Linked DNA regions of Homo sapiens. The protein of the gene in region 1 interacts with the protein of each later gene in a pairwise test. Each region holds a gene or a part of one and is shown on either strand. Other genes may lie near its edges.

Evidence for each region.
Region 2: the proteins of PLEKHA7 (region 1) and IGFL2 interact in binary tests that used the Homo sapiens proteins (3 or more experiments, as listed by UniProt).

Annotation. Positions count from the first base shown.
Region 1 is NC_000011.10:17,007,826-17,011,638, forward strand, and holds part of PLEKHA7 (pleckstrin homology domain-containing family A member 7), read right to left. Parts: intron 1-3,813. UniProt on the Homo sapiens protein: Required for zonula adherens biogenesis and maintenance. Acts via its interaction with CAMSAP3, which anchors microtubules at their minus-ends to zonula adherens, leading to the recruitment of KIFC3 kinesin to the junctional site.
Region 2 is NC_000019.10:46,146,957-46,151,328, forward strand, and holds the start of IGFL2 (insulin growth factor-like family member 2 isoform b precursor), read left to right. Parts: upstream 1-1,281; 5' UTR 1,282-1,322; coding exon 1,323-1,341; intron 1,342-1,868; exon of another isoform or gene 1,869-2,029; coding exon of another isoform or gene 2,030-2,081; intron 2,082-4,372. UniProt on the Homo sapiens protein: Potential ligand of the IGFLR1 cell membrane receptor.

The DNA.
Region 1 (3,813 bases):
GGCCATTCAAAGTGCTGGGATTACTGGGTGTGAACCACCACGCCCGGCCTAAAGATATTCAGTTGGTGCAAAAGTAATTGCAGTTTTTACCATTAAAAGTAATAGCACTAACCGCAATTACATTTGCACCAAGCTAATACTTTTTCCTTCTTTTTCAATAAGGAGCCTTGCATTTTCATTTTACACTGAGGCTCTGCAAATTATGTAGCCAGTCCTGCCCCTAGGACCTGCTTCAGGTCCTAGGGGAGGGGAAAGTTAGCCTTACTCCAAGCCTCAGAAATGTCTTTCCCAGAGTCTAGCTGTCCTCACTTGGGGACAGGCACCCACAAGAAGAAAGTACCTACACAGGGTGGCTCCACACAACCCCAAAGCTAAAACTGAGAAACCTGAAGCTAGAAAGGGTCTTGTGCAATCAGCTGGTTCCTGCCAGCACCCTTGTGCCAAGTCACAGATGATGCCAAGGGCCCAGCAGCCAGGGAAGGAAGACAGCCTAGTCCAGTAGCCAACAGGTATCCCAGTCCCAGATGCAGAGCAATAAGGATATGAAATGAAGACGCAGAGGAGGCCGTTTGAGCCTCCACCAGCCAGCTTCCTGCTTTGAGCATTGTTCTCAACAGCAAGCGACTGTATCCAAGAAGCCTGGGTCTAGGCACCAGCCTTGACAGGCCTGTTCCTGGCTGTTGAGCTTCTCTCACCTTGCTTATTCTCCTCCACCCCAATCTCCTTCCCAGTAAGGAGTTTTCCAAGACCTGGAATACCTAGAAAACTCATTGGGTCTCTTTAAAACACTGATTCCTCAAGAGATGCCAAGTGCCTACTCAGCTCCCAGCCCTGGGCTGGGTGCCTAAGTCACAGAAGTGGGGAATAAGATGCCTGCCTTCAAGGAACAGCCTTGGCACAGGCAAGGTGGCTGAGCCCCTCTTCTCTGCCATCTCCTCATTGCCTCATGACCTATTTAATGCCTGCTGTAGGGGGAACGGAATTCACAAGGTTCCATGAAACCCCTGAAGAGCAGCCCAGTGTAATACTCTAACTCCCATGGCCTCTTCTAGAAACTTCTCCCTCATAGGTCCCATGTTTGAAAAAGCTGTGTCTGCCAAATTGTATTTACTAATAATCAATGTCTTCAATTTCTTACTAATCAGAGACATGTACCACCCCTAATCAACATAGGAGACCAGGGGGTACTGCCCTTCCAAAGTACCTCAATCCCCAGAAAAAGCAAAGATGGAGTCTGGCCCCATAAGCCTTGGGGAAGCCTAACTCAGAGCAATGGCATATGGGCATTCATCTCCTTCAAGATGCATGGCCTGGGGTAGGAGCTACCACTACTACTGTGGCTATCACATGAGGGACCAAAGACCTATGTTCCAGTCCCAGCTCTAACACTTCAGCAAAATCATTGAACCTTCATGGACCTGAGTTTCATCATCTGAAGAATGGGGATGATTCTTCCCCTCCTGCCTCCAGGGGCTGCTATAAGGATCAAATAAGAAAAGACACAAGAAAAAAAACCATCTGCTATAGGAATGTCCAGGATTACGGCAAGATTCTATGTCTGTAAAACGAAACTAGTAGTAGTTCCTACCTCATCAAACTATTGTGAGAATTAAATCAATGACAGTTACAGAACAGTTCCTAGCATTTTTCAAAGACCCAAAAAGATTAGGCTGTTATATAATTATTACTACTATTATTGCTACTTCTGTTAATGACACTATTATCACAATTACTATTATACCTTGCTACCCAGCTAAGGGATTCATAGTAGAGAAGTGCTAGAGTACAAAAAGTCTTCGTTTTATTTATTTATTTATTTATTTATTTACAGACAGGGTCTCACTCTGTCATCCAGGCTGGAGTACAGTATCACAATCATAGCTCATGGTAAACTCAGACTCCTGGGCTCAAGCAATCCTCACACTTAAGCCTCTCAAGTTGCTAGGATTACAGGAGCATACCACCATTAATTTTTTCATTTTTTGTACAGATGAGGCCTCTCCGTGTTGCCCAGGCTGATCTTGAACTCCTGGCCTCAAGTGATCCCCTCGCCTCCGCCTCCCAAAGTGTGGAATTGCAGGCATGAGCCACTATACCCAGCCAAAAAATCTTTTTAAAGGGGTTATCAACATCACTTAGTCTAGAACTGGGAGAACCAACAGTAGATTTCTTATACATTTTGTCCCTCATTAATGCAAAATTGAACAAAAAGTGCAGAAATCAAAACAAAAATTCACCTGCCTAACCTCAAGCTTTTCTGCTTCAAGAAATGGACTCCGAGGCCAGGCACAGTGGCTCATGCCTGTAATCCGAGCACTTTGGGAGGCTGAGGCAGGCGGATCACTTCAGGTCAGGAGTTTGAGACCAGCCTGGCCAACATGGTGAAACCCTGTCTCTACTAAAAATGCAAAAATTAGCCAGTCATGGTTGTGCACACCTGTAGTCCCAGCTACTTAGGGGGTGGCCGAGGCATGAGAATCACTTGAACCCAAGAGGCAGAGGTTGCAGTGAGCTGAGATCGTGCCACTGCACTCCAGCCTGGGCGACAGAGCAAAGCTGTCTTTAAAAAAAAAAAGAAAGAAAAAGAAAAGAAAGAAAAGAAATGGACTCTGGAGAGTATTAAAACATTTGCTGGCCAGGCATGGTGGCCTGCATTTGTAGTTCCAGCTACTTGGGAGGCTGAAGTGAGAGGATCACTTGGCCCCAGGAGTTCAAGGCTGCAGTGAGCTATGATTGCACCACTGCACTCCAGACTAGGAGACAGAGGAAGATTCTGTTTCTTAAAATTTTTTCAAAAATTAAAATGTTTTAATCTGCTAAATATGAGGAGCAACTGAATACATCCTGTAAAACCTCACACAACTTTCCTGTGCAAGGAGCCATTAGGAAAAATAAAATCAGCCATGTCAATGCTTTGTCGCTCTCACTTTATGAGCCAGATTAGAGGAGGCTCCTGCCCTCAACACAAAAATCAAACATTCAGAAATGCTCACGGCAAAGCTAAGAAATCAGACAACAGTAAAACATTTTTCATGTGGGGGGCGGGGGATGAGGGAGAGAACAATTACTCCCAAAACCCTTAAGTCTCTCAAAAAATTGTCACAGAAGGACGTCAGAAGTACAATCACCTGCCACAGGGCCCTGCCTTTGAGGGTAGGGAACACTGTCACACATTGCTTTTTCTAGGCCTGGGAGGAGTCAGCCAAGGCCCTGGGGGCACAGGAGCTCACTGTAGGAAAATCATTAGGGACCTCACAGACAAGTTACCATGGAAGAGTCAGCAAAGGTGTGGAAGGCTGTGCTCCAGCCTCCAGAGTCCCACACGCGGCCTCACACACCCAGCCCAAGGCTGCACCTGGTACTTTGGGACACTTGCAGCCCTTCCTCCCGCCAAATGAATGATGGGCCCTGCCCCTGGGTGACGCTAGTGAGATGCAGGCCATGGATCCCATCCCTCTCACCTTCTTAGAAACACTGCTCCAGCAACTGCCCCGTCTCTTTACTGCAGCATCGACTTCTTCCTCTCAGTGGGATCATTCCCATCAAAACAAACATGCTGTACAATCTCCCACCAAAAAAAAGAACCCTCCCTCAAACCCACATCCTCTCCAATTACCGGCTAATGTCTCAACTCCACTTTGCAACAAAACTACCTGGAAGATTTGCCTAACTGACTCCCTGTCTTCACCCCGTGTTTTATCTTCCACCTACTCCAGTCAGATTTTGTCCTTTAAGGCTTCTGTGACCATGCATTCTCCTGGGGTTTCTCCTACCTTCTCAGTCCTTCTCAGTCTCCTTGCTGGCTTCACCTCT
Region 2 (4,372 bases), on another chromosome or scaffold:
CACATGGTATCCAGTGACACAAATAATAGTGATGGTGACAATAAAATAACAGTAAGAAACACAGAAGGAGCGTTTCCTTGGACAAAGCACTCCAGAAACAACAACAAAAAGGGGCTGCCTTTCCATCTATTCTATGAATCCCAGATGTCTATTTTATCACTGTCTGTTCCTTTTCTGTTCTCCCTGGCAGGGTTTTTACAGCCCCTGCTCTTTTTCTAGATTATGCTGCATCTTCACAGTTTCCCCTAAATGACTCTGAAGAATTATAGACAGTGCTGTCTACAATTATAATAATGGATATGGTGGTCCATTTCCAAGACAAAGTACCTCAGATAGGCTGAGGCCCACAAACTATGGAAGGACAGAATATACTAGGCCCATAGCTGGTGCATGCTTGTCGGGGTCCCCTTAGTTACCCTCTCCCAAACCAGAGTTTAGTCTAGAATGAAAGTTTACTAGCCAGCAAAATAGCTCACTTTATCTATTCTTATCAGCTTGCCTGACTGCCTAGGTCATAAGTCAAATACTTGAAAAGCCCTCGAGCTGGCTTTGATTGCAATGTATTATAGGCTGCAACAAAATGCAGTGAGACAATCCTAAAGAAAACACCTAAAAGCCTCAACCCAGCAACCAATAGGCGACGTCTGGGAAGATCGTGACCCCATCGTACTTAGCCTACGAGGAACCAGGGGAGAGACTTGTGCACTAGGGGATAAATAGCTTGTTGTAACCGTACTGGGTGTGCCTGCCTACCAGACATTCAATCTTGCAAGACCATCATTAAAAGTCTTGCTTCCACTGTTTTCTGTGTCTCTGAGTCCATTCTTTGGGTTTGGACGGGTGCGTTTGTTTCTCATAGTGCAGGTCTGGAGCCGGACTGAGATGGGGAGTAGAGGGACCCCTTGAAACTTCAGGGTGGATGAATATGAAGTTTCATCACCAGCTGTGATGTTTGGTGAGTAGTATGCTCTCAGATAAGTGAGAGCCAAGGAATCTCTTTCAAGTCTCTTTGCCGTGGGCAGAGTTCAAAGAATGACACTCACTCACGGCTTTGAAAGGTTCTAGGGAAGCCTTTACTCTGAGATTTCGAGAGGTCTGAGAAGGTAGCAGTCACTTGGAACAGGTCCAGGAACATCTTACTAAGCTGTTGATGCAGTTTTTTCTTATGCTTTCTGTGGCTTCTCATGCCCCACCCTTTCCAAGAGGCCAGTGCTTCTGGGCACCTCCCTAAATGTGGATAAGTTCATAGCCTACATAAGTCCCTGTATAAAGTCACTGACCCATTTGCACTGCTGCTGTCCCATCAGCTGCTCTGAAGCTCCATGGTGCCCAGAATCTTCGGTAAGGTAACCCTTGCCCCAGGTTGAGCTAATGCCTACTGTTATCCCTAATGTACCTCTGAACCTCAAACTTAATTCTCTCTTCCCTATTTAATTCTTGGTTTCCCACCTCATAATCACCCGTGTCCTCTCTGACTGCATTGCAATCTCTCTTCCCCACCTGCAAATTCCAGAAGCTTAACCCTTTCCAGAGCCCTCCCTGCATTTCCTCACCTGCCAAGCCCAATGCCCAGAACCTGCACACAGAGTCAGTCCCAAAATCTGCTCTGAGCTGTTACAGCAACCAAAGAAACTCAGAGACATCATCTTGTGCCCCATGATCATGATCTGGTGACCCCAGAATCACTGTCATTCTTCTCTCAGCTGATCTTTATTTTTGAACTCCTGGGCTCAGACTCAGAAGGGACCATAGGTGAGAATGGGTGTGGTGAGTGGAGGGAGAAGAAAGGAGGGAGGATTATAGCACTGTGGATAGGGTTGGGGGCTCCCAGAGGTCCCCTGCCAGCTCATCAGCTCTGACTCTTCCAGATATTGGACTGTGGTTGTGCCAGTTGACACTCAGGAGTGGAGACTAGATCTGCAATCTGTTGGGACTGTGATGAGGGGATCATCCTGCCCTCGAACCAGACCCAGCCCTGTAGCCCAGGCACTATTGCCTGGAGTTCCTGGGCTCTCAGCGCCAGGAAATCATGAGGTTCAGTGTCTCAGGCATGAGGACCGACTACCCCAGGAGTGTGCTGGGTAAGTAAGGGCAGCCCAGGCAGTGGACTGAGTTTTGTTGTGTGTATTCCATCAAGATGAGCAATGCCTGCTGTGTTCACTAACTTCTTTTTGGGCAACCATCTCTCTCTCTCCCTCTCTCTCTTCTCTCTCTCTCTCTTCTCTCTCTCTTTCTCTCTCCCTCTCTTTCTCTCTCCCTCTCTTTTCTCTCTCTCCCTTTTCTCTCTCTCTCTCTTTCTCTTTCCCACTCACCCCTCACCCTTTCCACCTCTCCCCCTCTTCCCCTCTCCCCCTCCCCCTCCCCTCCCCATCTCCCTGTGTCCCTCTGTCTCACATCCCCCTCTCTTCTCTTCCCCTCTCCCCTCCCTGTCTTTTCCCTCCTCTCCTTCCTTCTCTTCCTTCCTCTCTCAAGTTGAAGGAAGAGTAGCTCAGTCATCTTCCAGAATTGCTTTTTACCTCCGAGTCACCTGGCTCCATAGCCCCCGACCACCGCATGCCCATTTAGCTGTTCCTCTCTTTCCCCTCTACCCTCACCCTTGGCAACCACCAGTCAGCTTTCTGTCTCTATGGATTTACCTATCTGGGACATTTCATATAAATGGAATCACACCATTTATAAGTGACCTTTCGTGTAACTTTTTTTTTAACTTAATGTTTTCAAGGCATATCCCCATTATAGAATTTATTAGTACTTCATTCCTTTTTACAACTGAATAAATTCAATTGTATCCATGTATCAGCATTCATTTATCCATTCATCTGTTGATGGACACTTGGGCTGTTTCCACCATTTGGCTATTGTGAATAGTGCTGTTACAAACATATGTATACATGTATTTGCTTGAGAACCTGTTTTCAGTTATCTTGGGTGTACACATAGGAGTGGAATTGCTACGCCACATGGTAATTCTGTTTAACTTTTTGAGGAATTGGCAAACTGTTTTCCACAGAGCTGCATCAATTACATTCCCACCAGCAGTGTATGAGGGCTCACATTTCTCTCCAGATTCTTCAACCTTTGTTATTTTCTATTTTCCTGTTTATTACAGTCATCTGGGTGGGTGGGTGTGATATCCTGTGTAGTTTTAATTTGCGTTTCCTTGGTAAATAACAATGCTGAGTGTCTTTTCCATGTGCTTATTGGCCATTTGTATTCCTTTTTGAGAAAAGGTTTATTCAGATTTTTCCATGTTTAAATTGGGTTATTTATTTTATTATTATTTAGTTGTAAGAGTTTTAGAAGATATGCTGGATACTCATCCCTTATCATATATATAATTTGCAAATACTTTCCTCATTATGTGGATTGTGTTCATTTCCTTGATGCTATTGCTTGCAGTGCATAGGTTTTTAATTTTTGATGAAGTCTATTCTTTCTTTTCTCTCTTGTGCTTTTGGTGTAATATCTAAGAAAATATTACCTAACTCGAGGTCATTAAGACTTACTTGTATGTTTTCTGCTAGGAATCTTTTTAAGAAGTTGACAAAGAATAATTGTGTATATTTATGGGGTAAAATATGATGATTTAATGTATGTTTGCCTTGTTAAATGATAAATCAAATTAATTACCATATCTACCACCTAATATACTTATTACTTTTTGTCACTAGAACATTTAAAATATACTCTTCAGCAATTTTGAAATATACAACACACCATTTGTTTTTTTAAGAGGCAGGGTCTCACTCTGATGCCCAGTCTGGAGTGCAGTGGTGTGATCACAGCTCACTGCACCCTCTACCTCTGAGGCTCAAGTGATCCTTCCACCTCAGCTCCCAAGTAGCTGAGACCACAGGCACGCACCACCACACCATGCTAATTTTGTTTTTCATAGAGACGATGTCTCACTGTGTTGCCCAGGCCGGTCTCCAACTTGTAGGCTCAAGCAACCCTCCTCCTTGGCCTCCCAAAGTGCTGGGATTGCAGGTATGAGCCATCACGTCCAGCCCACAATACACTATTATTTATTATAGTCACCGTGCCCTGCAGTGGATCTCTAAAACCTATCTTTCCTGTCTAACTGTAACTTCATATCATTTGCTTATCTCCCTGTTGCCCATCTGCCCACACCAATCCTCTGGTAACTGCCCTTCTCTCTACTTCTATGAGTTCAACTCTTTTAGATTCTACATACAAGTGAGATGGTGTGGTATTTGTCTTTCTGTGGGTTGCTTATTTTACATTTCTGCTAAGAGTTTTATATGTTCGCTCTTGTATTTAGGTCTGTGATACATTTTGAGTTAATCCTTGTGTATGGTATGAGGAAGAGATCCTCTTTCTGCCCACTCTTTTGTGTATGAATATACAGTTT